Homo sapiens: one gene and its partners. The protein of the gene in region 2 purifies or fractionates together with the protein of the main gene of each other region. This does not show direct contact. Each region holds a gene or a part of one and is shown on either strand. Other genes may lie near its edges.

Region 1 (4,898 bases), on a different chromosome or scaffold from region 2:
TGGTCCCAGCTACTTGGGAGGCTGAGGCAGAGAATCACTTGAACCTGGGAGGAGGAGGTCACAGCGAGCCAAGATCGTGCTACCGTACTCCAGCCTGGACAACAGAGCAAGACTCTGTCTTGAAAAAAAAAAAAAAGATCATAGCAGAGGGGCATGGGCTGGAGGCAGACAGGACTGGTTGTAGGGAGCAGAAGTTATCCAGCCAGGAGAGGATGGTGAGATCTAGAAGATCTAGATAAGCTTACTGATGGGGAAAGGTTTAAAAAAAGAGTAGTGTGAGCTTTTCTCTTTACCATCATGGCCTTTCACATCCCTAGACCCTTCTAATTGCAGTCTTCATCTCATCCTTCCCCTGCTTTCAGGAAGGCCTGTGCCTTTTGCCTACATGAGGCCTTCTCCCACCCCATTCCAACTGCCAGGTTTTTATGTCTTGTTTTCCACTGTGTTCTTGTTTCTATTAGAAAGATAGAGACGCTTACTCTCCTTCTGCCTTGTGTAACTGTCCAGTTTTCCCATTACGCCATGTGTTTCTGAAAGGCAGGAAATTATATCTTAGACAGCACTGGCAGAACTCCGGTACATAATAGATGTTCCGCAAATGTTTATGCTTGTTGAGCACATGCATGCCCTCATTAGAGGTGCAGGACAATCTGACCTAACTACTACAGGGTTTTGCAAATGTTTAGACTTACTGTGGCCTACAGCAAGAAACATATCTTACTTGCAACCCAGTACAATGAACACATACATGCCACACAAAATGGAAATGCTTCACAAAATAACATTTTCTCTAATTCTTAACATGTATTCTGATTCTTTTCTTTTCTTTTCAAGACAGGGTCTCACTCTTTTGCCCCGGCTGGAGAGCAGTGGTGCTATGCTGGCTGACTGCAACCTCCACCTCCCAGGTTCAAGCGATTCTCCTGCCTCAGCCTCTCGAGTAGCTGGGACTACAGGCGCCCACCACCATGCCTGGTTAATTTTTGTATTTTTAGTACAGACAGGGCTTCACCATGTTGGCTAGGCTGGTCTTGAACTCCTGACCTCAAGTGATCTGCCTGCCCCGGCCCCTCAAAGTGCTGGGATTACAGGCGTGAGCCAACGCACCCGGCTAAGTTTTGTATGGGGTTTCACCATGTTGGCCGGGCTGGTCTTGAACTCCTGACCTCAAGTGATCTGCCTGCCTTGGCCCCCCAAAGTGCTGGGATTACAGGTGTGAGCCACTGTGCCTGGCCTACATTTACTTTTATTTATTTATTTGAGACGGAGTCTTGCTCTGTCATGCTGGAGCGCAATGGCACAATCTCGGCTCACTGCAACCTCTGCCTCCCAGGTTTGAGCAATTCTCCTGCCTCAGCCTCCCGAGTAGCTGGGACTACAGGTGCGTGCAACCACGCCTGGCTAATTTTTGTATTTTTAGCAGAGACGGGGTTTCACCACGTTGGCCAGGCTGGTCTTAAACTTCTGACCTCAGGTGATCGCCTGCCTTGGCCTCCCAAAGTGCTGGGATTACAGGCGTGAGCCACCGTGCCCAGCCTATATTTACTTTTAAATGGTCCTGACCAACTAAATGCATTTCATAATCTATTGAAAAATACTGACTAATGAACACATATATACTTGAATATTATTTTATGTCTTTCCTTGGGTTTCTCTCTGGTTTAAATAACATCAACACCCTTACTCTTTCCTAAGAACTGTTTTTAAACCTTTCAATAATTTAGCATGGTCTTTTTCCAGCTTCTTGCATTGTCTCCAAACTAAGACTCTAAGAAAGTCTTGGTCGTTGCCAAGAGCATGTGGATTACTTCCCAGTACCAAGACTTCCAGCTCCAGCTCGATCCAGCTCTTGCCCTCCATCAGTCAGATGGGCTTTCCAAATGACACAACTCCACATCCACCTGCCCTTGGGAATCTTCTATCTGTTTGGCCCCCAAGTAATTCACTCTAGGATTAGAAAGGATGGCCAGGTGAGGTGGCTCATGCCTGTAATCCCAGCACTTTGGGAGGCCGAGGCAGGCAGATCACCCGAGGTCAGGAGTTGAAGACCAGTCTGCCCACCAATATGATGAAACCCCGTCTCTACTAAAAATACAAACATTAGCCGGGTGTGGTGCACATCTGTAATCCCAGCTACTTGGGTGGCTGAAGCATGAGAATTGCTTGAACCCAGGAGGCAGAGGTTGCAGTCAGTCGAGACCATGCCACTGCACTCCAGCCTGGGTGACAGAGCGAGACTCTGTCTCAAAAAAAAAAAAAAAAGAAAAGAAAAGAAAAGAAAAGAAAAGAAAAAAAAAGGAATCAGTCCCTTCTCATAAAGCATTTACATTCGAGTTGTAGTTTCAGGGTCCTTGTTTGTTTCCCATCTGTCTGTCTGTCTGTCTCTCTCTCTCGACCAACCTGTGTAGAGTGTTTTGCGAAAAACACACATGTACAAGTTACTAGATTGACTCTTTTTTTTTTTTTTCTGAGGCAGAGTCTCACTCTATCACCCGGGCTGGAGTGCAGTGGCCATGATCTCAGCTCACTGCAACCTCCGCCTCCCGGGTTGAAGCGATTCTCCTGCCCCAGCCTTCCAAGTAGTTGGAATTACAGGCGCGTGCCACCAATCACGGCAAATTTTTGTATTTTTTAGTAGAGACGAGGTTTTGCCATGTTGGCCAGGCTGGTCTCGAACTCCTGGCCTTCCAAAGTGCTGGGATTACAGGAGCGAGCCACCGCGCCCGGCCTATTAGATTGGCTCTTTATCCCTGCTGAACATCTCTAGTTCTTCTTCGACTCACTTTGAATCCTGGAAGCACCACTACATTAAATGTCTCTTCATACTAATAAGAATTTTCGTCCAAATCGCGCAATCACCTCCAGGGCCAGGAAAGGGGACCCCCGGTCGGGAGTGCGGACTGGGCGTGGTCACTGACCCCGAGCGTCCCCTCCTTCTGGCTGACACGCGGCTGCAGACGCAGGAGCCTCCTGCTGGCGACTGGAGTGTCACTATAAATAATTGAGGCCAACACCCGCGGAGTGACATTCCACCCCGGTAGGCCTGGCCTACAGCTCCCAGCAAGCCTCGCGCAAGCTCGTGGACTCCATCTCCCGGCGGGCCGGCACTGCCCTGCCGGGCGGTCAATGGCCCGCTCTGAGTAGGTTTTTCCGTTTTTACCTGACAGCTGAGAATGTCTGGAAGCGGAGGGGCGGTAGCAGCCTGCCTGGGAATGGGCCACCCCGAATCCCGACCCGAAATAAATGCACCAGCATGCTGACGCGGTAAAACAGGAGCCGCCGGCAATAGCAGTTTCACCCTCATCCCACTGAGGGCTCTATGTTGGCTCCCGCCCCCATCCCGACAACCCCCTCGCGCCTTGGCGGTGATTGGTGAAAAGACACATCAATCTCACTTCAAGCTGTGATTGGAGGATATGTTGTCAGCCCCCTCCTTTTGGAACTGTGATTGGAGGGAATCGCCTATCCGCCCGCCCCCTGCTCTGGGCGGAGCCGAGCAGGAAGTGGGCCTGGCTTTTGCCAGGTGCTCCTGTGGGCTCCGGGTGACGTCCAAAGGGTGTGGCCCGACTGGCCCTCCAAGCTATGGAGTATCCATAGTAACGCGTCAGCCGCCGACCTCGGGCCATTTTCCCAAGGCTCCAGGATCTCTAGATGTCCCGTCGTCTCAAGGGCGTGTAGAACGCGGGTTTTGGGGGAGGAATGAACAAAAATCGACTGGGAGTTTTTTCAAAACACGTACATATGCCCTGCCACCCACCCCGCTCTCCTAGGTGCGTCAGAACTGCTGGGACATCTGTCACGTGAAGGGGTGGGTTGCCCCTCCACACCTGTGGGCGTTTCTCATTAGGTGGAAGGAGAGACTTGGAAAAGAAAGAGACAGAGAGACAAAGTATAGAGAAAGAAAAATGGGCCCAGGAGACCGGAGTTCAGTTTACGGAAGATCCACGCCGGCACCAGCCTCTGAGTTCCCTTAGTATTTATTGATCATTATCGGGTATGGCAGGATAATAGGATAATAGTGGAGAGAAGGTCAGAAGGTAAACACGTGAACAAACGTCTCTGCATCGTAAACAAGGTAAAAAAAAAAATGCTGTGCTTTTGATGTGCATACACATAAACATCACAATGCCTTAAGAAGCAGTATTGCTGCCAGCCTGTCCCACCTCCAGCCCTAAGGCGGTTTTCCCCTATCTCAGTAGAGATAGGCTTTACACCGAGACATTTCCATTGCCCAGGGACGAGCAGGAGACAGAAGCCTTTCTTTTATCTCAACTGCAAAGAGGCATTCCTTCCTCTTTTACTAATCCTCCTCAGTACAGACCCTTTATGGGTGTCGGGCTGGGGGACGGTCAGGTCTTTCCCTTCCCACGAGGCCATATTTCATCACATGGGGAGAAACCTTGGACAATACCTAGCTTTCCTAGGCAGAGGTCCCTGCAGCCTTCCTCAGTGTTTTGTGTCTGGGTACTTGAGATTAGGGAGTGGTTTGAGATTAGGGAGTGGTGATGACTCTTAAGAAGCATGCTGCCTTCAAGAATTTGTTTAACAAAGCACACCGTGCACAGCCCTTAATCCATTTAACCCTGAGTTGACACAGCACATGTTTCAGGGAGCACAGGGTTGGGGGTAGGGTTACAGATCAACAGCATCTCAAGGCAGAAGAATTTTTCTTAGTACAGAACAAAATGGAGTCTCCTATGTCTACTTCTTTCTACACAGACACAGGAACAATCTGATCTCTCTTTCTTTTCCCCACAGTCACGTGTACTTGGGGAAGAACTCCCCCGGTGATTCTGACACTCTTGCCCTACGCCTCAGCCATTGAGAACTATTGGTATGGAGGGCCTGTAATTTATCAAGGCGCGGCCTCAGATCTGTCTGCCTCGCAGATACCTTCC
Region 2 (3,798 bases):
CACCACCTCATAAAGATATCTGCTTTCCTGTTTATTATAACACATCTTTATTCATAATAGCCAAGATACGGAACTAACTGAAGTGACCATTAACAGATGAATGGATAAAGAAATTGTCATATATATAAAACACACACATTATATACATACATACATATATATATATATATAAAAAATAGAATATTATTCAGCCTTGTAAAAAGAAATCCTGTTATGTTGGGAACAAGCCCCCCAAAATCTGGCCATAAACTCACCCCAAAACTGGCCATAAACAAAATCTCTGCAGCACTGTGACATGTTAGTGATGGCCATAACACCCACGCTGGAAGGTTGTGGGTTTATGGGAATGAGGGCAAGGAACACCTGGCCTGCCCAGGGTGGAAAACCACTTAAAGGCGTTCTTAAGCTACAAACAATAGCATGAGCGATCTGTGCCTTAAGGACATGTTCCTGCTGCAGTTAACTAGCCCAATCTATTCCTTTAATTCGGCCCATCCCTTCATTTCCCATAAGGGATACTTTTAGTTAATTTAATATCTATAGAAACAATGCTAATGACTGGCTTGCTGTTAATAAATACATGGGTAAATCTCTGTTCTGGGCTCTCAGCTCTGAAGGCTGTGAGACCCCTGATTTCCCACTTCACACCTCTATATTTCTGTGTGTGTGTCTTTAGTTCCTCTGGCGCTGCTGGGTTAGGATCTACCCGACTGAGCTGGTCTCAGCACTGTTATTTGAAACAATGTAAATAAACCTATAGGGTTTATTATATATACTAAGTGAAATAAGCCAGACACAGAAAAAAAATGTTGCATGATCTCACTTATAGTGAAACTTAAAAAAAAAACCCAAATACATAGAAATAGAGTAGAATGGTGGTTACCAGAGATGAGGAAAATACAGAGACACAGGTCAAAAGATACAGAGTTGCAGTTACAAAGGGTGAGTATGTCTAGATATCTAACATACAGTATGAGGACTATAATAGTATTGCACTGTGTACTGAAAACTTGATGACAGATTTTAGATATTCTTACCACACAGACAAAAAGAAATGTAAGTATGTGAGATGAAGCTTATGTTAATTAGATTAAGTGTATGTACATAAAAACATCACATTATACACATCAAATATATACAATAAAAAAGCACATTGGGAGATACATGATAAATTTCTATCTGCAGTTGCTATTTGCATTTTTAAAGGATATTTTTATTTTTTAAATTTTTAGCTGACAACTGTATAATTATGGAATACAATGTGATGTTCTGATATATGTGTACACTATGGAATGATTAAATCAAACTAACATTTCATCATCTCACATACTTATCATTTTCTGTGGTGAGAACATTTGAAATTTATTCTCTTGACAATTTTGAAAGATCCAATACACTATTATTAACTATAGTCACTATGCTGTGCAATAGATCTCAAAAGCTTATTCCTCTTAACTGAAACCTACTACCCTGTGACATGTGGGGAACATCTCTCTATTCCCCAGCCCCAGTCCCTAAATGTTGAATACACAATGGGGAAAAAATAGTCTTCAATGAATGGTGGTGGGAAAATTGTATATCCACATGCAGAAGAATAAAATTGGACCCTTACCTCCTACCATATATAAAAACCAACTGAAAATCGATTAAAGACTTAAACTGTAAAACTACTAAAAGAAAATATAGGGAGAAAGCTTCACAACGTTGGTCTGGGCAATAATTTTTGGATTTGACCTCAAAAGTAGATGCAACCACAGTGAAAATAAACAAATGAAATTGCATAAAATAAAAAATGTTTCTGCACAGCAAAGGAAATAATTAATGGAGTAAAGAGACAACTTACAGATTGGGAGAATATATTTCCAAACTATTGTTGGGGCTCAGAAACGGATACCCTAACATATAGTGATTTGACAGGTGGAACTAAAGAAGACTCGAGGTCTCTCTGACCTCCTCCTCAACCTCTGTTTCTTAATCCTCTGTTTTCCCAGAGCACAGGAGGAAGTTCTCTGAAGTTCCTTTATCTGCTTTAAGTTCAGACTCACCAAATAAGAAAACAGTTAATTCTGGTGCCTTCCATGGGTTTTCATTAACTGAAGTCATATTGTAGGAAAAAGAATGAAGTCTCTTAACCCACCTGGATAGATTTTTCTCACAAACCATTGTCTTCTCTGCAAGCCCAGTAGACTTTGTCCCAGGCCATTTATGTGATCTTCACCCCATTAAGTTCTCCCCAAATTATTTACTCTTCCCCCAAAATCACCCACACTTCCCCATCTCCCTCTCCCCTAAGGACAAGGGTATATCACCATCTATACCCCATTGCTTGGTGGGGTGATCACTCTGATTCTCTGCATGCATTTTTATAGATTTGTTTGCCATTTATCCTATTAATCTGCATTCTGTCAATTGTGGCAAGTTATCAGCATATTTTTTAACTTTTAATTATTCTTAATGGAAAGACACTTCTGTATACACTGGAAATCTCAGGAAATTTCTTTTTTCCTTAAGCTTAATTGAAATGTTTACTTTTCAGTAAAATTTCAAGCTTGAGTAATGTTCATGCCTGCTTTTCATTGAAATAGAATGAAAAGGTTGCACAATATTATTTTCATGAAATTACTTCTAGTATAATTCTGAATAAACACTTTGAAAGGCAGTGAACTGTAAATATATTACAGCTATCTCTTATTCTTCAGGGTGGGTCTCAATTATGTAAAAGATGATTGGCTTTCTGTTTTAAGTAATAGTCATTTTGAAAACACTTTAAAACTGTCAAGTGAAGTGTGATGGCTAATTTTATATGTCAACTTGACTGAGATAAGGTATACTCAGCAGGGAAAGCATTATCTCTGGATGTGTCTATGAGGGCTTTTCTGAAAGAGATTGATGTTGGAATCACTAAGCTGTGTAAAGATGATCTACCTTCACCAATGTTGGCAGGCATCATCCAATCCGTGCAGGTCTTACCCAAACAGAGCAAAAAGTCAGGTAGGGTAAATTTATTCTCTTCTAAAGCTAGGGCATCCATTTCTTTCTACTCTCAGACATTGGAGTTCCCCAGTTTCCCAGACCTTTGGCCTTACACTGAGAATTATGCTTTGTTTTATTTAGGCATATTTTAATAATACTTCATGTATTGGTCAGGAAGACATTTCCTGGTTCTAAGGCTTTCGACTCAGACTAGATTACAACACTGGCTTTCCTGGTTCTCTAGCTTGCAGAAGAGAATACTAGGAAGCTTGTACTTCCTACATAGGTAAGAAGAGGAAACAATCTCTGGCTTAGAAACTATGTAACCAACCACAATTCACAAAGATTCCATAATTTCCTTGGCAGGAGGCTAAGATCTAAAGCCCAATATGATTGTACTTCTCTTATCAGTTTTCTGCAAACAAAAGAGAATAGAACTAAAATACAGCTTTGTTAAAATAATGTTGATTCATTTGCATGAAATATCAGATCACAGAAAAAACATATTTTTATAAAATATGAGCTCTGTCACACTGGCCCTCATAGACACATCCAGAGATAATGCTTTCCCTGCTGAGTATACCTTATCTCAATCAAGTTGACATATAAAATTAGCCATCACACTTCACTTGACAGTTTTAAAATTAGGTTGTTTTTTCCAAATGACAAAAAGCAGGAGCAAACTGCAAGTGCTCCTGCAACACATCTAACAAGAAAGCCTTATCTGACTTTTATGAGGTTCGGTATAATGCCCAAACTGCATATTTCAAACTCTTGCCATCAGATTCACCTAAGAAGACAAAAGATCTATTGCCTTTGAACCTA
Region 3 (4,127 bases), on a different chromosome or scaffold from region 2:
GTTGGAGAAAGGGAAACATGAACCATGAACCATGAACCATGAAATGCAGGTGGCCTCTAGAGGCTGAGAACAATCCTCAGCCAGCAGCCAGCAAGGAAATGGAGACTCAGTCCTGCAACCACATGTAACTGAATTCTGACAACTGGAAAGAATCTGGAAGCCGAATCATTCCCAAAACTCTAGAAAGAAACTCAGCCCTGGTGACACTGATTTCAACCTTGTGAAACTTGGAGCAGAGAAACAGCTGAGTCACACTGTGCCCTGACTTCTAAGTTAACAAAACTCTGAGATCAGGGTACAAACAAATGGGCGTTGTTTTAAGCCACTAAATTTGTGGTAATTCGTTACAGGAGCACTGGAAAACTAATACTCTTTATTTAATCACTGACTTCAAATATGCTCTGTCAAATCTCATTTTTCTATTAAGAGATGTAACTTTGAACAGAGTTCATACATTTCCAGTCATACTCAATTACTATAAAATCCAGTCTAATTTACTTTCCCCAAACTAATTTTGAAAATGTTTAAACCTACAGAAAATTTAAAAGACTAATACAATGAATACTCTTATACCCTATACCTACCTATATTTATCAACTGCTAACATTGTTCTAATTTATTTGCCTTTTCACTCTTCCTAAATATACATAAATACTCCCCCGCCCCCCACCCTCTCCTTCTCTGTATCAGGCATTCTAAACTGTAGATGATTTTGCCCCCCAGAGGACAACTTATCATCAGGAAAATGAAATTAAAACTACAATGAAATACCAACTCACACCCATGAGAATGGCCACTCTTTAAAAAAAAAAAAAACACACACAAATGTCTGGAGACATATCTGATAGTCACTACTGGGGGAATGCTACTGATATCTAACGGGTAGAGCCCATGGATGCTGCTAAACATCCTGCAACACCAAGTCCCACACAATTATCCAGCCCAAAATATCAATAATGCTGAGATTAAGAAACCCTGCTTTCTGTATATGTATATACAAACATTTTTTTCCTGAACCATTTGTAAGTAAATTACAGACATTATGATACTTTTTACCCTAAAGGCTTTAGTTTTGGCTGGGCATAGTGGCTCACGCCTGTAATGCCAGGACTTTGGGAGGCCAAGGTGGGCCGACTGCTTGAGCCCAGGAGTTCGAGACCAGCCTGGGCAACATGGTGAAACCTGGTCTCTACAAAAAATACAAAAACTAGCCAGGTGTGGTGGCACAGGCCTGTGGGCCCAGCTATTTGGGAGGCTGAGGTGGGAGATCGCTTGAGCCAGGAAGGCTAGGTTGCAGTGAACCATTGAGCCATGATGACGCCACTGCACTCCAGCCTGGGTAACAAAGCAAGACTTTGCCTGAAAAAAACACTACAGTTTATATTTTCTGAAAACCAGAACACTATCCCATACAGCACAATTTAACATTGATACAATACTACTATCCAATATGTAATCCATTTTCAAATTTCCCCGTAATCTAAAAAAAATCCTTTATGGCTTTTTTTTAAAAAAAAATACAGGATCCAATGAAAGGTACATAGGATGGCAGCCTGATCAACATTCTAGATTTAAAATAAATAAGGAGTCCCAATTTTCAAGCAGTGGGGGACAGGGAGTAAAACTTGTGGCACTAGCTCTAAGATCTAATAATAGTCTATGACTCTGATACTATGCTACATCTGAAATGGATGTACTAATTCAGAAGCTTGTTAATACATTAAAATCTCTCTTGGAAGAATATCTTCAAACATGTTTACCCTGTTCTTAAGAAAGGGGAACTCTGCTCACAATAACACATAACCCTGTTGAATAAATATCAATCTGAAACAACAAATCAAGAAGGAACTTTCTCCAAAGAAGATATACAAATGGCCAAAAAGCATATGAAAAGATGTTCAACACCACTAATCATCAGGAAAGTGAATAAAAACTAAAACAAGGTATCAGCTCACGCCCGTGAGAATGGTCACTCTTAAAAAAAAAAAAAGAAAAGAAGTGCAGACGGGGATGTGGAAAAATTGAAACCCTTGTGTATTGTTGGTGGGAATGTAAAAGGGTAAAGCCACTTTGGAAAACAGTATGAAGGTTGCTAAAAAAATTAAAAATAGAATTACCATGTGATCCAACAATCCCACTTCTGGATATACAAAAAAATTGAAAGCAAGATCTCAAAGAGATATTTGCACTCCCATGTTCATTGTAGTACAATTCACAATAGCCAAGAGGTAGAGGCAACCTAAATGTTCATCGACTAATGAATGGATAAAGGAAATGTGGAATATACATACAATGGAATACTATTCACCTTTAAAAAAGAAGGAAATCCTGTCATAATCTACATGGGTGACATTATGTTAAGTGAAATAAGGCAGTCACAAAAAGACAAATGCTGTGTGATTCCACTTATATGAAGTATAAAGCAGTCTAATGGAAACAGAAAGCAGAATGTGGTCACCAAGGGCCAGGGGCAGGAGGAAATGAGGAGTCGTTCAATGGGTAGAGTTTCGACTTTGCAGGATGAAGAAGTTCTAGAGATCTGCTGCACAGATCTTTGTTGCTGCACAAAGTGCATAAAATAGTTAATACTACTATACTATATGCTTAAAAATGGTTAAGATAGCAAATTTTATGTGCTTTTGACCATAATTTAAAAAAACAAAAAATGAAACAGAAAAAAATAACCACCATTCCATGATCACACCTAAGAAAGATAACTATTTAATTTCATTAAATACCCAATCAACAACAAAAAAGGAATTGCTTATTTTCAAAGATAAATTCATTTACTAATATTTTGGGTTATTAAAACATGCACATTGCAATATCCTGGTTTTCTAAACTCGCATACTTCGTAGATTAAAAAGTTTTAAAGGAAAATTATTTGCAAATGATTTGAACATCTAGAAATGAATATGGCCAGACATAGTAGCTCATACATATAATCCTAGCATTTTGGAAGTCCAAGGTGGGAAGGTGCACTTGAACCCAGGAGTTTGAGACCAGCCTGGGCAACAAAGCAAGACCCTGTCTCACAAAAAAAAAAATAAATAAATAAATAAAAGAAATGGATATGTTAAAAATATTAACACTTTATCTTTTCTTTCTTTTTTTTTTTTTTTTTTTTGTTTTGAGACAGAGTCTCACTCTGTCACCCAGACTGGAGTGCAGTGGCGTGATCTTGGCTCACTGCAACCTCCAACTCCCGGGTTCAAGCTCTCCCACCTCAGCCTCCCAAGTAGCTGGGACTACAGGCACATGCCACCATACCCGGCTATTTTTTGTACTTTTAGTAGAGACAGGGTTTCGCCACATTGGCCAGACTGGTCTCAAACTCCTGACCTCAAGTGATCCACCTGCCTCAGCCTCTCAAAGTGCTGGGATTACAGACGTGAGCCTCCGTGCCCAGCCGACAACACCTTACCTCTTCAATCAGACAATGTAAAATGATGGTATTTAACAGGATGATATAGTGTTGCTTTTAGAAACAACTTTTAAAAATAAAAACAATAAAATGTACCTAACTGCTACAAAAAAAGAAAACTTTCATGGAGAATAAAAAATAATACTATAATCCATCAAGATGAAAAACTGGGGCACTCCACAAAAAAACCTGCACACAGATGTTTATGTAGCAGCCTTATTCATAATTGCCAAATACTGGAAGCAACTAAGATGCCCTTCAGTAAGTGAATGGATAAACTGTGGTACACCCAGACAACGAAATATTATTCAGCGTTAAAAAGAAATGAGCTATTAAGCCATGAAAAGCCATAGAGGAGACGTAAATGCATATTACTAAGTGAAAGAAGCCTATTTGAAAAGGCTACCTAAAATACTACGTGATTCCAACTAGATGACATTTTAGAAAAAGGCAAAACTATGGAGACAATAAAGACCAGTGGCTTTTGGGGGCTCAGTGGGGACAGAAGGATAAATAAGCAGAGCACAGATTTTTAAGGCAGTGAAACTACACTCTATACAATAATGATGGATACATGTCATTATGCATTTATCCAAACACACTGAATGTACAACACAAAGAATGAACTCTAATGTAAAACTATGGACTTTGGGTGATAATACGTCAGTGTAAGTTCATTAACTGTAAAACATGTACCATTATG
Region 4 (4,127 bases), on a different chromosome or scaffold from region 2:
AAAAACACCACTGATCACTAGACCCATCTCTAACATCTTACCATGGCGGTGTGAGTTACCTTACTGGAGGGTGATTGCCTTTGCTCTGTTTTGCTTGATTAGGAAGAGCTGATCAGTCAGAAAGCTATGAGTAGTGGGAATCAGTCTCTTTGCACCTCTCTGCCCAGACCAGTAAGGCAATTATCCTAACCAGACTTACCCTTGAGCATACTGTCTCAAAGTCTAGAATGTAGAGGAGAGGGCACAAATTGCTAGCAAGCCCATTTGGCCATCACATTTAACCTGTATTCTTCAATAGCTGTATCAGTTATAAAGGTTCATCTCTTGTCTGCCCGACTCCTGTGTCCACTCAGTTTTTTGGATGGGAAAAACCAGTTAATGGGGCCTCCCTAAAGCCCATCACAGTCCTTTTTAGAAATGAAGATGATGATTTCATTCATGAATGATGGTGAATTTGTACTGTGATTATCAATTTTGTCCAGTGATTCTTGCAGTGGAATCCACTGAGCTTGTGGTGTTGAGTGTAGTTCAGTCTTTCTCTGTGGAGTCTATTCCTTTGTACATGTGTGTTGTGTAATAATAGCTTCCCCATTTTTATTGTAGAATCCAATTTTTTTTAATTTGGAGAAAGAGATACACAGAATCTAGAATGGTAGATAACCTTTCAGTCATTTATATTTCTGATGTAGGCATGCATAGCGTTAGAGCTGAATAAGTACTTGTTTAATTGTATACATCTTTGCATCAGATAGAATTATCATAAAATTAGTTTTCTTATGTACACACTCTTTTTGTGATATGTATAGTTTAGTGGAAGATGCCTGAGCCAATTTTATGGGATAAAGCAAGTCTATTGTGAAAATTTTGCCACATATAATCTAGAGCTGATGGAACAGAGACTTTCTTTTAGTTTTAAGTTTCCTTTTTCCTTTTATGCTATTCTCAGTTTTTTCTTTACACTAATTATGAGAACACTCTTAGAATATTGTATCTTTTGTTATTCATAGACAATAGCCTAAGTTGAACTGGGAAAGTGGAATGGCTTCTGCTATTACAATTATTCCTAGAAATATATTCTAAAACGTTATATGGGTTACCAGTTTACCTAGTGATTGGTTTAATGTGGTTAATTTCACAATCATATTTTGTTCAATGTTGAGAATAAAACAGAGGTTGAGGTTATTTGACTTGATTGCTGAGAGGAGAATTTATATGGCAGTTGTAAGTAATGCCAATAAAAGTTGTTTGATAAAATGCCTAGTGTCTGTAATAAACCTTTTCTCAGCTTTGTTATGCTCTCTCTCAGTGAACTGCTTATTCCATAAATGGTACTATGTGACTTTCAGAACTGTTTTCCACTGTGGGCATTATTGGGTCTGTTTAGACAGTAATGATACCAGTTAATTCCACCTAGTTGAAAACAATTCCAAAGCCTTTCTTACAGAGTTATACAAAAATAAAGGAAAGGAATTGCAGTGGAAAGAGAGATTTCTGATTGGATGAAGCAGGACCCTAGATCATTTTATAATGAAGTCACAGTCATATTTTCAAAAATCTTTATTTTCATCAAAACACTTAATTGTAAAAGATGGGCCCTATACTAATGAATGTAAAAATATGATTACATGTTTTAAATAACAGCATAGTATTTCATTTTAAGAACTGAATAGTTGATATTTGAGTATTACTTATATTTACTGAAATTTTTTGTCTAAGCGTGTCATAAGGACCTAATTAGAAATTTAATCTAGAATTTATGTTTCATTTCCCATCTTATGTAATACTAAATTAAGCAAGGTGAGGATTCATTCACCATATTTGATAAGTGTTTCTGATTACATCATCCAGCAACTGAAATCTCACATGTAACCAGGCATATTGCAAAAGCAAGGGCATGCCACGTTCTACATTTTTGTTAGAATATGTGTATAAAACAGTATACTTCATTATCAGATGGATGCCTGTTTTATTGCTACTGAGGCAGTAGGCATTAAGCTCTGTGCAGCTACACAGTTAACTAATATATTTGAGTTGCTTAATATTAAAGCTAATAATCTAAGATCAAGAATTAAAGGACATGCCATAGTATATGCAGCAGTGTTAAAATGGAGAAGAGCAACGTTAAGATGCCACTAAGAGCAAATACTAGAATTCTAAAATGACGTAATTTCCTTGGTTAAACACATTCTGGAATACATACAACTCCTGGTTATAGAAGGAAATAGAATTTTAAACTGTTACATGAAACTCAACTGTGGCCTGTATAGTGAGCAGTAGTCAAAATGAGTTATGACCAGAAAGAAAAAGATCATTGTTGCCATTTACTGGGAAAGTATGAATAGACCATGAAGAAATCTTAGGGTCCGTACACATGAGGAAGGTAGAAACTTCTTATTTCTAGTCAATACTTAAGGACTTTATTTATACCATTAAAACAGGTCAGGTTAAGGAATCTATTCCATGACCAACTGAATTTATACTTTAAAAAGAAACCTCTGACTTTTAGAAAATTTTTTTTAATTGCAAATCTTATTGGCAGTTATTTTCAATTACCACACTTTTCGTTAACAGATAAGATTACTATTTAGGTTCTTTTCTGACTTAAAGTGGTGCTTTGTATTGATAGTTGGTGATTAAGTTTGATTTGCGGAAGTTAACATGTATAAATATATATAATATATTAATATATAAGTATATATAATATAAATATATATAAAGTAGGAAGTCTGGAAATTGTGTTTTAATTATATCATACAATATTTCTTTATGGATCTTTTATATGTAGTAGGAAATAGACTTCTTGTGTGTTTTTTTGTTTGTTTGTTTTGAGACAGAGTCTCGCTTTGTCACCCAGGCTGGAGTGCAGTGGCGCGATCTCGGCTTACTGCAAGCTCTGCCTCCCGGATTCATGCCATTCTCCTGCCTCAGCCTCCCCAGTAGCTGGGACTACAGGCGCCCGCCACCATGCCTGTCTAATTTTTTTTTGTATTTTTAGTGGAGACGGGGTTTCACCGTGTTAGCCAGAATGGTCTTGATCTCCTGACCTCGTGATCCACCTGTCTCGGCCTCCCAAAGTGCTGGGATTACAGGTGTGAGCCACCGCGCCTGGCCAACTTCTTATGTTTAAAGCATTTTAGTTTAGACATTTGATAAAGTTCAAATGACAGCCATGTTGTGCAGTTCTATAGTAGTTTTACACAATCAATGAGTGACTTTTTATATCACACGTTTGGAAGTATATAAGATTTAACTTAAAGTAAATTAGATTGATTTTGCAAGTGTTTATTGTGGAAAGCTTCACAGTTTTTCAACATGCTGCTGTCTCTTAAAACATCACTGAAGCTTCTTGTTTTGAATTGCCTTCAAAGCTTGCTGCATATTCTTCACATTAGCCTCATTAGTAGTAAATCTTAAAGTTGGGTTTGATTTTTGGCTATAGCTAACAGTCATTTGGAGCTAAATTTGGTGACTAAATTAGGTTAGCAAGCTCGGATAAATACTTTGTATTGATAAAAAGATCTGAATATACATTTCATGTAATGCTGATAGACTGCCTTGAGGACTGTTCTCAAAGAAAAGTCCCAGAGAAGTTTTGAGTGATATTGACACAAAGTAATAAATCTGTAGCTTTACAAGGTAGTAGAAAGTATTAGAGCAAATGACTCTTGGACTACTTATTACTTCGTGGGTAGCAATTTTTTTAAAAAAAGTTTGCCCGCAGGATAAAAATGGGTAAAAAAAAAGTGATCTTAATTTTAGAGAAGTGGGAAAATATAGAGCTAGAAGAAAATATTTCAATTATCTGCCTGCTTTTAATATTAAAAACAAAGATCATGATAGTATTCATTATATATTTCTATAATAAAGCAAGTTAAAACCGAGTGGCAGAGGAATTAGAATAATGTTAGAGATAGAGGTAGTAGCTGAGAATACCACTGAGGAAGAAAGCAGGATACACATAGAAACGTATACAGAAAAAATGCATAAATACAAATATAAATGAAAATGGAGTAATATCTCCATCTTGTGGCCTTCTTTGGATATTGCTATTAAAAATGTTGAGGGGTTGTATTTTCACAACTGTAGGCATAAGTAAGAATAAAATATGAGACAGACGAAAACAAAAT
Region 5 (4,569 bases), on a different chromosome or scaffold from region 2:
GTTGCCTGAAAAACATATCGAGGGAGGGAGAAAGGGGAAAGACAGAGAAGAATAAGTGGTTTAAGTACAGAAATCTACACATTTAAGGTGCAGGGGAAGGCCAGCTGGATTATGACCTTTTATAATTCCAGAATTCTTTTAAAGAAATGCTCTGAGAAAGAAGCGAACATAAGACAGACAGCAGTGAGCACAAAATCCCTGCCAGGAGCCTTCACAATGAGACAGGGTCATGCTGCCACCATCTTAGAGAAAAACAAAATGCAAACGTTTCCTTCACTGGAGGTGAGGGGGAGGGAGAAGGAGGAGGGGAGTAGAGGTGAGCTAGAGGGACTTGTTTTTAGGAAGGAGGCTGGAGAGTGGGGGGCAAGGAGAGACACTGGAGGGATGTCAGGAAGCCTCAAACTAAAAAAATTAAAAATAATTAAATAATTAGAAAAAGATAAATTAGCCATCTCCCTCCTATAGCCTAGCATTGCATTTATAATAAACACATTACTAGAGAGAAGATTCTGAGAAAAGGCATTAGAGGCCATCTTCTTAAACAGTCTTTTCCGATGGGATCAAGCAGTAACCTAAAACCTTGCCAAGTCAAATACTTACCGTTCCGAGGTAACCTAAGAGTGAAAACTGAGGGGAAGCAGGGAAGCCCTGTAAAATTTAGTCTGAGACCAAAGAAGTAGTGAGAGGGCGGGCGGGAAGGGTGGCGCGAGGTGGGCGGGGGTGGGGGGGAGGAGAAAAAATCCTGCAAGGATTAGCAGAAGTGCCTGTTTCAGTTACATGCCGCGTCCACGTCCACGCGCAGAGCCGCGCACTGGCACATTCAGCGCCCTGCACAGAGCTCCCAGCGCCGGGCACTGAACTTTACTGGAGCCTTCAGGTTAAACAGGATAGAGAAGAAGGGTCACCCCCACTCCGGTCTTGTAGGGCTGAGGTGGGAACTTTTTTGTAAAACCTTTCACAAAAAAGAGAAGGAAGAGGCCAGGTGCAGGCGCAGAGCCCTCTTTCTTTGGAGACACCTCGTTGCTAATTAGCATTGGTTTGGCAAAATATTGCACTTCATCTTGGACTAGGAGAAAATGAGCGCTTTTGAAAAGGGCAAAGGTATGGCTCCTTCTTCCTCCTTCCTCCAGCGCTGTCAGCACTCGGCCTCAGCACTTTCTACCGAAGAGGTTCTTTCTATGGTTTTCCGGCAGAGTAATGAATTCAGGGAAATACAGCCGAAAAGAGAAGGGGCAAAGCCTTAAAAACAAAACCACAACAACCATAAAAGCCTTTATTTGAATTATAGAAGGAAGGAAGGAGAAGGAGAAAAAGAAAGAAAAGAAATCTAAAGGGAATAAAATGGGCTTCGCAGGTCGCCCCCAGGATTCCGTGGGTTTGCACCTCGGGACCGCACCGCGGGGGTGAAGGTGAAGACCTAGTGTATGGCCCCACGATTCCAGGAGACGAAGGAGAAATCGGAGACACCCACCAGACTTTGTAAGAAAACTTTTAATGACTGTGTGCCAGTCAGTGCGTTTTTAAACTTGTTCAGTGTTCGTGACTCCTTGCCCAAGCAAAGTAATCCCCCAGACCCCGGCCGCCACCTCTCCCCCACGCCCTGCCCGGGAGAATCCAGCTGGTCTCCCCACCCTCTCAGACCCCCTTCGGTCCCCACTCCTAGCCCCAGCCGATCGAGAATCTGGCGGTGGAAATTCCAGGCGCCGCCCCTCCCTCCCCCGGCCTGAACTCGGAGTTTGGGCGCCTTTGCCCCTTCCCCTCCCTTCCAGAGCCCTCTCCCGCCCAACCTGTAAGCCGGACTAGCTGCTCTGCAGTGTCTGCCGCCCCCACCCCCAGCACAGGTCGCAGCGCCCGGCATCCTCCCACGCTTCCCTCCTGCCCTGCTCGCCGCCGGCCCCCGGCCCCCGGCCTCCTCCCGCTCGGCAGTGGCTAGCAGCGGGGGAAGTCCCGCCTGCGGCTCCCAGACCCCAGCCCTTTGCAGCCTCTCTGAGTCCCCCATCGCCGCCTCTGAGCTCTCCCGTCGCCCTCCCGCCAATCCCTACTCGGTTTTGCTGCCTTCTATCCCTCCACCCCCAGCAACGCCCAGCTCCCAAGCCTCTTGGCCGGCCCGCCCTGCGACCCCCCAGTTCCCCGCTTACGGACCTTGGGATCTCCGCTGCCGCCGCCGTCGCTGCCACCGCCTGCTGTGCCCGACCCGCCGCTTGCCTCTCTCTGCCGTTCGCCCTGGGACGGGCGGACGGAGCTCGGCTCCGGCGGGCTCAGACCTCCCTGCTCGATTCTCGGGCGCGGGGGTCTGTGCTCCGCCGCCCGGGATCTGCCCGGGAGCCGTCCTGGAGCCCCAGGGCCGCGGCGAGCGGGCTCTTGGCCCGGCTAGGGAGAGGCCACTGCGTTGCGCTCTGGTAAGGGCCGCCGCGGCCGCCGCGAACTTAACTTTCACAGAGCAGGTCGCAGCCCCGCTGCTCCCTCCGCGTCAGTTCGGTCCGCGCTGCCTCAGCGCGGCCGCCCTTGCGGCGTCCGGCTCGGCTTGCTGTCCCCGGGCGAATCGCCTGACTCTCCCGCTCGGGTGCCGGCTCCCTCCGCATCAGGCCCCGACGGGACAGGGATCCTCGGGCTGCCGCGCACCACGGGAACGCTTTGTACTTGGATGCCCAAAGCTAATTCTCTGTGCTCTCTCGGCCTTGAGAACCTCCACGTTTAGAGGGCCGGGACAGAATACTACCACCCCCAGGCTTGCGGGGAATTTGGGAGCAGGGATGTTCAATATGAGGGCACTGTCCATAGATTCTCTATTCGGGGAGCTCAAAAACTAACGCCCTAGGGGTTGCAAGTCTCTGCACACTGGGTAGGGAGAAGAAGGGGTGGCTTACCAGAATTCCGGAGCTTCTTGTTCTTCGTCACAGCCAAAATGACCATGGAGTTGCCGATTAGGTCTACAACGATGGTGATAACCATCGCGCAGAACATAAAGATGATTAGAGCCGGTGGGTATTCTGGCTGGGGTAGCTTACAGCCAATACAGCCATAGGGGGTGGGAACCGCTAGGGTGGGCCCCATGTTGCTCCTGGGGATCGTTAAGATCTCCCAGCAGGCTCAGGATCAGCAGCCAGGTCCAGACAGCAAACACCTGTTCTGTCACCAGGAGCTCCAGGAAAGCGTGCCTCCCTCTCTGAGAGTCAGAGAGCAAATGACAGCATCCCGCCCCTCTCCGATGAGCTTTTAAAGCCTCAAGAGGCGGCTAGCCCCACCCCAAATCCCTCCCCCCGACCAATCAGACCTCCCTGAATACCCCCCCCTTGGCTACCCCCTCTTATTGGACAAATCCACATTGAGGTGTCATCTTGCTTCCGACTGCCTTGTATGTACTTCCTCTCTAGCCAGCCTGCCCTGCCTCTCAATCTCCCAGGTACCTTGCAAGCATCATGACTAGCTCGGAGTCCACCCCACACCCCCTCCACCAGCCCCTGTGCATTCGTTTCTAGCAAGTTCTTCTCCCTCTCTCCTCCAGTGCAAACACCTGGCAAAGAGATGTAGATTGCAGAGCCGGAGCACAGAGTCTTTCATAGGATCCAGTGCTAGACCAAGCCAGTCCACAGCCCCCAGCAGGGTATAGGGGATAGCCGGTGGCCCCTTGAACGCTAGATGCTTGCCTCTGCAAGTATCCTTGTGAGGTCCATCCCACGCCCCATGCCCTTGCCTGTCTAGAGCCTTCTGTGTCCCGCGGGGAACAGGGGACTACTGCTGGGAGCTCCCACCCCCAATCTGGGTCCCTAATCCCTAGGGAACTTAACCCCGCTCCCTTTCTCGCCAGGAGCCTCTTGGCTCCCTTAGCGGCAGCTGCGAGTAGCCGCTCAGTCCGGTCCAGGTCTTGCACTCTCCATAAAGAGATGTACCCTGCGCCCGACTCTGGAAGTGGGGAGCGGGTCTGCACCCTGGGACCTAGGGAAGGCATTGGTGGCCACTCGGTCCTCAGTTTGGGGGCGAACGGGAGCGGGAGCTCGTCTCCTTTCCAGCTGCCGGCAGCCAGGCGGCGGAAGCCAAGGGACGCTTTGGGAAAAAGTAAAACAGGCAATAAAGCTCTTCTCTTGGGTCCCCGCTTCTCAAGGAAACTCAGGACGAGAGGCTCTGACGCCTCTCCCTCTCGGGATGCTCGGCATTCTCTACTGAGCGGCACGGGGCAGTCAGGAAGGCTGAAGGAGCTGCGCCGCAGCCGCGGGAAAGGTGCGGAGGTGTCACGCGGCTAAACCAAGAAGCCTCTGGCTGACCGGCGATCCCTGCCTCAGTCAGGATTCCTCTCGGTCTTTCTCCTTTCCCATGCCCTTCTGGGGTTCTCGTTTCGACCCCATCCCTCTCAGGCCTCCCCCCTCGCCCTCCACACCGCGGATCTCTGTCCCCGTGCGTCACAGTTCCCCTGCGGTGCGCCCAGGATCTCGCTCCGCGGGGACCACGGAAAATTCGAATATTCGGGCAAAACTAAAGGGGCGTGATTCGGACACTCGTTCCCTCAATAACCTTGGTCACGGGAATGGATTTCTGCCGGCTACTAAAAGTTACGGCTCCTGTCGAGAAGCC
Region 6 (3,768 bases), on a different chromosome or scaffold from region 2:
TTTTTTTTCTAAGCCTGGTGAAGGCCTCTCATCCATCTTTTAATAACATTCAGTATCAAAACCTCAAGAGTTTCCAAGGAAAAGGACATTAAACTCCCTATGGTTCCAGGAAAGCTCACCTGATTTAGAAACTTCCTAAGCAAATGCCTTGCACATTGTAGGCTGCCACTAACTTTTGTTAAATGAATGCACTCATAAATAAGTGAACATCTTTTTTAAATAAAAAAGTGATAGATCATACACAGGGACCCATGTCTGCTTGATGTTCACATAAACAGCCCTTGAGGAGCAGAGTAAGGGCAGCCCAGCACGTGAATGGGCAGCAGTGAATTGCCTGCTCATGGTGCTGATAAGTTACATGCATGCACACCAGGCTCCATGTGGGCTGCCACTGCAGCATTTGTCCCAGGTGAATGAATGGGAAATGAGAGGCAAGTTCCACTGTGCTAAGCATGCAGAATGACAAGGCCTCCTGGGAGCCTCCCACAGATGCTCCACCTGAGGGGACTCACCACTTGAGCTGCAGGGATGAGAGCACCACAGACACAGAGGAGGCTGCCATGGCCGCTGAGCCCATCCAGGGCTGCAGCACAATGCCGATGGGCATGAAGACACCTGGGGAAGAAAGAACTCGCACTCACACCTAGGTCTGGGGAGAGGAGCCAGGAGAGGGCTTCAGGCACCGGGCTGCCCCACCCTCAGCGGCCCCCAGTGAGGTCTCCACCTGGCGTGCTCAGAAGCCCCTGCCAATGGATCTTGCCCACAGGCCCCCCCCAAAGTGAGGCTTCCTAGAAAGCTGGGTGTGGGATGCTGTTGAGTGGGCCTGGCTCTCTTCCACTCGCCCTGATGTTCCCAGAACCACCCACAGGTGGCATCCCATTTCAGGGCGAGCTCCAGGGCAGCGACAAACCACAAGGAGTGGGAGGAGCGGGAGGAGAAAAGCGGCAGGAGCTGAGGGAGCCAGTTGCCCATCCTGTAGCCACAGTCCCACAGAGGACAAACACGGCTGAGGGCCACAGTCCTTCTCTAGCAGATGATCTCGCCTCCAGGGCTTCATGACATCTTTAGAAGAGGAATGAGAGCCAGGTCCCAGGACAGGGTCAGGAGACAGGTATGGTCAACTTTGTGTGGCAGAGGCACATACACTGGGGGAATTAAGCTCCTGAGCCGGCTCTGGGGACAAGAAGTAAACCTGCCTGACTCACTGGGCTCAGGAAGCCAAGGCCCTGTTACACAAGTCACCACTAACCACTCAGACACAAGGGAGACTGAGGCAGGAATGCTGTGATTACAAACTTGATCTCTCCTCAGCCCATGGAGGAGCACTCTGGAACTTTTCATTGCCATGTTCCTGGGGGCAGGGGGCAGGGAGCAGGGGGCGGGGGAGAGATGGTTCTTAAGGAGGGGGAATGAGGGGGAATTACAAAGCAGAAAAATCTATTTCTTTTCTTTTTCTTTTTTTCTGAGATAGGGTTTCACTCTTGCCCAGGCTACAGTACAGTGGTGCGATCATGGGTCACTGCCACCTCCAACTCCTGGGCTCAATAAATCCTTCTGCCCCAGCCTCTGTACTCCCAGATGGGACTAAGGTGTACGCTACCACGCCCAGCTAACTTTAAAATTTTTTGTAGAGATGGAGTCTCACCATGTTGCCCAGGTGAGTCTTGAACCCCTGAGCTCAAATGACCCTCCTGCCTCAGCCTCCCAAAGTGCTGGAATTACAGGCATGAGCCACCATGCCTGGTCAAAGAGCCATTTCTTTCCATGATCATTTGTGTAACTCAGAGTGAAACTTGGGCAGGATTAATGTTCAGGATAAGGTTCTGAAACACCAATAATTGTGCCTAGCATGTAGCAGATGCCCCATAATTCTTACTAATGATTATTTCTCAGACTATATGACTTAACAAATGGCTCAGAAAATAAGGCCACAATAAAATAGGGATCAGAAAATACAGCCAAGCATCTCCACTAGCTTTTTAGAAAGGACCAGAGTGAATGAAGGTTTCAGGTCCTCTCCACAGTTTCTCATTTAAAGACATATAAAGCAGGGGACATGAAAAAAAAAAAAAAACAGCCTTTCTAAAACGCCTCTAGCCAGCCAGTGAGTGAGCCACTCACTAACCCCAGCAGGAACCTGGGAGACAGAAGCCTTTCTGGGCGCAGCTGGAGCACAGTGGGTAAGAGCTGCCTACCTGCTGCAATGGGTATCCCAACCAGGTTATAAATCAGTGCCAGGACCAGGTTGATGCGTATCCTTCGGACAGTCCTCTTGGAAAGGTGAATGCTAGCCACCACATCCAGCAAATCATTCTGATGGAGAGGAGCACACAGTGAGGAAGGGGTCTGCCCATTGCCCTCCCAGCACCCACAGCCTGGCTGCAGCCACGCTCACTCTGATAAGGACGACGTCGGCTGCCTCGATGGCCACATCCGTGCCGGTGCCAATGGCCACACCCATGTCTGCCTGGGCCAAGGCCGGGGAGTCATTGACCCCATCCCCCACCATGGCGACTTTCTTCCCTTTATTCTGGAGCTCCTGGACCTTGGCCACCTTGTGCGAAGGCAGCACCTCTGCAAAGACTTTGTTGATGCCAACCTAAGACAAAAGGAAGGCAATGCCTAGTGTTGGCAAAAGGTATCAGATAGCAGCAGAAACCTCAAGTTACCCTTGCCCCCTCTGCCCTCGGCCTCTGGGTCCAGTCAGTGATGTTGGTCAACCACACCCTGCAGGTTTGCTGTCACAGGGCCAGTTTATCCCTGGCTCCTGCCCCAACACCCTGCACTGGTTTAGGCCCTGTCCTTTTCTGGATGTGCAAACAACCCCCTTGCTGGTCTCCCTGTCCACGGCTCAGTCCTCCAACTGTCTTCTCCATGTGCTGCCCCCATGGTCTTTCCAAAGCATCCGTCCGGCCATGTCCCTCCCTACTCTCCTGCTTCACATCCAGTAGACCCCATGCATCTCCCAGAGGAGGGCAGCTCAACTCTTGGGTCTGCTTCCGAGGGTCCCAGAGTCCCAGGGTCCCAGGGTCTGGCAGCTGGTGCCACACTTGACCATACCATTCAGCTCCCCGCGGCATCTCCAAACCGCCGTGCTACTCTGTGCCCCTGGGAAATGCTCCTGCTGCCTGCTCTGTCCTGGGAAGGTGCAGTTTTCCTTTCCTAGTCCCTTTCCCGCTTCTCAGATCTACACAGTCACTGGTCCACCTTCCTGCAAGACCATGAGCCCGTCAAGGGCAGACCCCCCTTCACTCCTCACAGAGCCTGGCCCCACACCTGCCTGTCACATTCGTGGTGCTTCGTAAGTGCCTGCTGAATAGATGAACAAGTGCTAGCCAGAAAAGGGGGGAAGGACGCTAAACAGGTCCATAATTAGCAAGGAGGACCATGGAAAACAGGGGTACTGCTGCTTCCCTCAAGGAACACAATTAAGCTTTCAGAAGCCTAGAGCTCTGCACACATTTGGAGGTGCATAATTTCTAGGAATCCAAACTGGAGCCGCTGCTGTGTGAGAAGTCAGGCAGCCATCCAGTGGTGCTGTCCTCACAGACCAAACTCAGCATCAGGGGCTGCTGGAGAACTGCCCAGGAGTCACTTATCTGAGCACCCCAGTGAGAAGAGCTGAGCTGGCAAAATCTTCCCTTAACATAAAGGTTAGAAAATGTCTATCTCAGCCCTTAGGTCACATACTTTTTTTTCCATTGCAAAGACTGGGAAACGGTTAGAGAACCCTGGAACTCCTTTTTTTCCAGGATGCATGCGCCCAAG
Region 7 (4,127 bases), on a different chromosome or scaffold from region 2:
GCAGCAAGCTGCAATCATGCCACTGCACTCCAGCCTGGATGACAAAGTGAGACCCTGTTGCAAAACAAACAAACAAACCAACCCTCTAAAATAGGGTAATTGAGTAGTCTTCATATATAGGCAAAAAAGTACACAGAAATAAAATAATCTGCTCAGTCACTAATAAATAGCATGTCTGAAACCTGAACCCACGAATAAAATGAAAAATTTTGTTTTGGTTTTGTTTTGAGGAGTTGTGAAATTTAATTTTGTTTTCATTTTGTACTGAGCCATAGAAAATACTAGTCTTCTCAGCAGTACAGTAAACACTGTACATTGAGTAGTGCTCCCTCTGCTGGCCTTCTAAAAGTATGGCATGAACCCACTACATATGTACATAATCTGGTATGACCAAAAGCTGACTTCAGGGTGGAAAACTGAAGAGTTTTATTTTAGGAGCTCCTACAAACCACATACTTTATGGTAGCAACTTTTCTCCCATACGGTAATGAGTGGACATAAAGTATGAAATTTTTAGGGTGCCCAGATATCCTTAACAAAAATACCTCCCTTTTATCCAACAAAAAAATTCTCTCTACCAAGGAATGTTTAAAAACAATATATTTCACTAAAAAGTAAAAAACATGTATACATTCTTTCAAACAATTGTACTTTTTGTTGAGACAGGGTCTCACTCTGTTGTCCAGGCTGTAGTGCAATTGTGATCACAGCTCACTGCAACCTCAAACTCCTGGGCTCCAGCCTTCCTCCCACCTCAGCCTCCCAAAGTGCTGGGACTACAGTCATGAGCCACCACGCTTGGCCAGCATGGTACTTTTTAACCATGTAGCTTTTATAATTTTTTATTTCTTAGTGATGTTATGGAATGTTGAAGAAAACACAAATTTTAATTCATACTGGTTCCATATTCCTTTCTGCACATTATTCCATGTATTTCTCATCATGCTGAAAATATTTTAAGCTTACATTTGAAATAGAAATTTGAACACAATACTGCAATAATTTCAACAACTATTTAGCTTAAAAAATATAGTTTTCTGTGGTATTCCTGACTTCCTATGCTTATTAAGTCAACCCAGCAATGTTGCCATATTCATAGTTTTTTAATCAGTAGGTTCAAATGATTTTAAAAACTGTTATTATGTTACTTTTTAAAGTTTCAGTTCATTAGATACAAAGATAAAACACCAGCCTGACTACCAGCCCTACCAGCCCTGTTCTTGGATTATTTTTTTCTTTACATAAAATAGATGGGGTCTTGCTATGTTGCCCAGGCTGGTCTCAAACTCCTGGGCTCAAGCGATCCTCCCGTTTCAGCCTCCCAAAGTGCTGGGATTACAAGCATGAGTCACCACATCTGACCCTTAGATAACTTCTATCTGTTCTGTGAATAAGGGATTTTACTTACACAGCTACTGTGTAAACATGCTATGTGGTTCTAAAGGAAAACACAGATATGAGGGTAAAGAACAAAAATTCAAGGGTAAAAGGTCTTTAATTTGGACTCAGATAAGCATTAAGCTTCATTTTTAAAACACTAATGAAAAATACAAATCTATGTTTTTTTTTTTATTCACTACCTCTTCTGTATTGGGCCAAGTTGAGAGAGAGGTAAGAAACACATACCGAATACCAGAAAGTCTCCTAAATGGGACAAGGACAGTGGAAAAGAACTCTTCAAATCATCCCCAAGAAAAAGCAGTACATACCTCTGGAAGAAAGCACTCTCTGCAGCGGTTAGGAGACCTTTCAGGTATCCACCTTTGAAATGGGTAATTCTGCTGCTGCAAGGGAGCTTCTTTGGTTTGAAGCAGAACCAGGGCTCCCCAGTGTAGAGGTCTGTAAAGTTACACAGGGGCAGATTCCCAGGAAGACACACGTTGCACTCAGTAGTTTCAGAAATTCTTCCTGAACGGAAGAGACTCTTGAAATAGACCCTGTCTGGTTTATCTTCCTGTAAGCGCTGAAGAACTCTGATCCCTTCACTGGGGTGGACCAGAGATACGGATACTTTAACTTTGCCTGGCCATAGCAAAGTAAAGAAAACCTTGTAAAACCCATTCTGGTAATCCACCACCCTGCCCACAGCCCCAGCCTGCAGCTTGAGGGAGTGAATTCTGGCCTGCAGGTAGTCTCCACCATACTTCTTGGGCTTTCTTTGAAAATCCTGCACATGAACCAGCACCTCAAGCTGGCTTCCCACCTTAAAGAAGGCAGCAGAGTTCAAGATGACAAAGTAGCTGGAAGAAGGGTCAGTGCTCTTCACAAAGGGGACTGGGCCCACATCAGGAACCTGCCGGTGCAAGGCAGCCAGCAAGGAGTCCTCCTCCATGCGCTCCTGGCTGGACAGGGTCTGCTGATCATAGCCACAGTAGGGATTTCGGCTAATTCCTGTCACCTGGGAGGAAACAAACTGTCCACTGCTGTCGATGAAAGTGGCTGAAACAGTCTCATGGTCCAAGTACTGAAGAAGAAGACACAAACAACAGAAATTACCACTATAATAGGTCTCTGTATTTTGGCATAAATTCAGAGGGCTCCCCACACTTCTGTGAGTTTTAGCTCCAGGAGCTCAATCAGATTCTCACAGTGAATATCAAAGAAAAATCCCCTTGGGCTTCCGGGAAGAGAAAGGGAAAAGGACCCATTTTGAAGTATGCAGAGCACTGTGTTGTTCTTAACAAAGCTGCCCCTCAAGAGAAACCACTTTATCAGAACCTAGCCTATTGGAGTTTTATCAGAGCCTAACCAACTTGAGAGAAGGGAAATATCCAACTCCAGCCCACTCGAGCCACCCAGTCCAACCTAAGATGGAGAAACACCAAGAAAAAAGTAAAGGAATGGAGAAAGATATACCATGCTAACACTAATCCAAAGAAACCAGTAGTAGTTATATTAATTTCAGACAGAGCAGATTTCAAAGCAAGGAAGGTTAGCAAAGATAAAGAGGGTCATTACATAATAATAAAGGAGTCAATTCTCCAAAAAAAAAAACAACCCTTAACATGTATGTACCTAACCAATGAGTATCAAAACATGTGAGGCAAAAACTAATGGAGAAATAGATGAATCTACATTATAGTCTGAAACTTCAACAATCCTCTATCAGAAATACACAGATCCAGCAGGCAGAAAATCGGTAAGGACATAGTTGAATTCAACAGCACCATCAATAAACTGGATATAGTTGACATCTGTAAACTACTTCATATCAAGCTCACATGGAACATTCACCAAAACGGACCACATTTTGGGCCATAAAATACACCTTAAAAATTTTTTAAAATAAAAATCATACAGTGTCTTCTCTTAAGCCATAATGAAATTAAACTAGAAATCAATAATAGAAAGAGAGCTGGAAAAATCCCAAAATGGTATACAAATGGGTAACATACAAAATCTCATGAGAAATTTAAAAATATGTTAACTAGGTGAAGGTGAAAATATAATTCATTAAACACTATAGAATGAAGCAAGAGAAGTGCTTAGAGGGAAATTCATAGTACTATACATATTTTAGGAAAGAAAAACAACCTAAAATCAGTAATTTAACCTTACATCTTAGCAAACTAGAAAAAGAAGAGCAAACAATATCCAAAATAAGCAGAAGAAAAATAATAAACATGATAGCAGAAATCAATGAACTTGAAAACAGGAAATCAATAAAGAAAAATCAATGAAACCCAAAGCTGGTTTTTTAAAAGATTGATAAAATTGATAAGCCCTCTACCCAGGCTAAGAAAAAAAGAGGGAGGACACAAATTATTAATATCAGAAATGAAAGAGAAGCCATCACTACAGATCCCATGGACATTAAAGGAATAAAGGAATATTATGAACAATTCTATGCCCATAAATTTGATAACCCAGATGAAATGGACCAATTCCTTGAAGGATACAATCCATAAAGAATGCACCTAATGATGCAAAAGTAATATTATAACTAGTGGAAATCAAATATAAAAGAATGAAGTAGGCCAGATGCGGTGGCTCACACCTGTAATCCCAGCACTTTGGGAGGCCGAGGCAGATGGATCACAAGGTCAGGAGTTCAAGACCAGCCTGGCCAACATGCTGAAACCCCATCTCTACTAAAAATACAAAAATTAGCTGAGTGTGGTGGCAGG

The links.
Region 1: the proteins of CLEC2D (region 2) and ABCB8 purify together in Homo sapiens (affinity purification with mass spectrometry; 2 studies listed by BioGRID and IntAct, with this or other methods). This does not show direct contact.
Region 3: the proteins of CLEC2D (region 2) and DIPK1A purify together in Homo sapiens (co-immunoprecipitation; 3 studies listed by BioGRID and IntAct, with this or other methods). This does not show direct contact.
Region 4: the proteins of CLEC2D (region 2) and DNAJC1 purify together in Homo sapiens (co-immunoprecipitation; 3 studies listed by BioGRID and IntAct, with this or other methods). This does not show direct contact.
Region 5: the proteins of CLEC2D (region 2) and GPR50 purify together in Homo sapiens (affinity purification with mass spectrometry; 2 studies listed by BioGRID and IntAct, with this or other methods). This does not show direct contact.
Region 6: the proteins of CLEC2D (region 2) and ATP7B purify together in Homo sapiens (affinity purification with mass spectrometry; 2 studies listed by BioGRID and IntAct, with this or other methods). This does not show direct contact.
Region 7: the proteins of CLEC2D (region 2) and NXPE3 purify together in Homo sapiens (affinity purification with mass spectrometry; 2 studies listed by BioGRID and IntAct, with this or other methods). This does not show direct contact.

What each region holds. Positions count from the first base shown.
Region 1 is NC_000007.14:151,026,873-151,031,770, reverse strand, and holds the start of ABCB8 (mitochondrial potassium channel ATP-binding subunit), read right to left. Parts: upstream 3,322-4,898; 5' UTR 3,305-3,321; coding exon of another isoform or gene 3,256-3,304; coding exon 3,161-3,255; intron 531-3,160; coding exon of another isoform or gene 480-530; intron 1-479. UniProt on the Homo sapiens protein: ATP-binding subunit of the mitochondrial ATP-gated potassium channel (mitoK(ATP)). Together with pore-forming subunit CCDC51/MITOK of the mitoK(ATP) channel, mediates ATP-dependent potassium currents across the mitochondrial inner membrane.
Region 2 is NC_000012.12:9,696,883-9,700,680, forward strand, and holds the end of CLEC2D (C-type lectin domain family 2 member D), read left to right. Parts: 3' UTR 1-2,671; downstream 2,672-3,798. UniProt on the Homo sapiens protein: Receptor for KLRB1 that protects target cells against natural killer cell-mediated lysis. Inhibits osteoclast formation. Inhibits bone resorption. Modulates the release of interferon-gamma. Binds high molecular weight sulfated glycosaminoglycans.
Region 3 is NC_000001.11:92,951,264-92,955,390, forward strand, and holds part of DIPK1A (divergent protein kinase domain 1A), read right to left. Parts: intron 1-4,127.
Region 4 is NC_000010.11:21,993,491-21,997,617, reverse strand, and holds part of DNAJC1 (dnaJ homolog subfamily C member 1 precursor), read left to right. Parts: intron 1-4,127. UniProt on the Homo sapiens protein: May modulate protein synthesis.
Region 5 is NC_000023.11:151,175,207-151,179,775, reverse strand, and holds the start of GPR50 (melatonin-related receptor), read right to left. Parts: upstream 3,193-4,569; 5' UTR 3,055-3,192; coding exon 2,868-3,054; intron 2,400-2,867; exon of another isoform or gene 1,940-2,399; intron 6-1,939; coding exon 1-5. UniProt on the Homo sapiens protein: G protein-coupled receptor that plays a role in numerous physiological processes including regulation of energy metabolism, neurite outgrowth or cell migration.
Region 6 is NC_000013.11:51,935,081-51,938,848, forward strand, and holds part of ATP7B (copper-transporting ATPase 2), read right to left. Parts: intron 2,600-3,768; coding exon 2,396-2,599; intron 2,314-2,395; coding exon 2,196-2,313; intron 616-2,195; coding exon 513-615; intron 1-512. UniProt on the Homo sapiens protein: Copper ion transmembrane transporter involved in the export of copper out of the cells. It is involved in copper homeostasis in the liver, where it ensures the efflux of copper from hepatocytes into the bile in response to copper overload.
Region 7 is NC_000003.12:101,799,572-101,803,698, reverse strand, and holds part of NXPE3 (NXPE family member 3 isoform 1 precursor), read right to left. Parts: intron 2,465-4,127; coding exon 1,710-2,464; intron 1-1,709.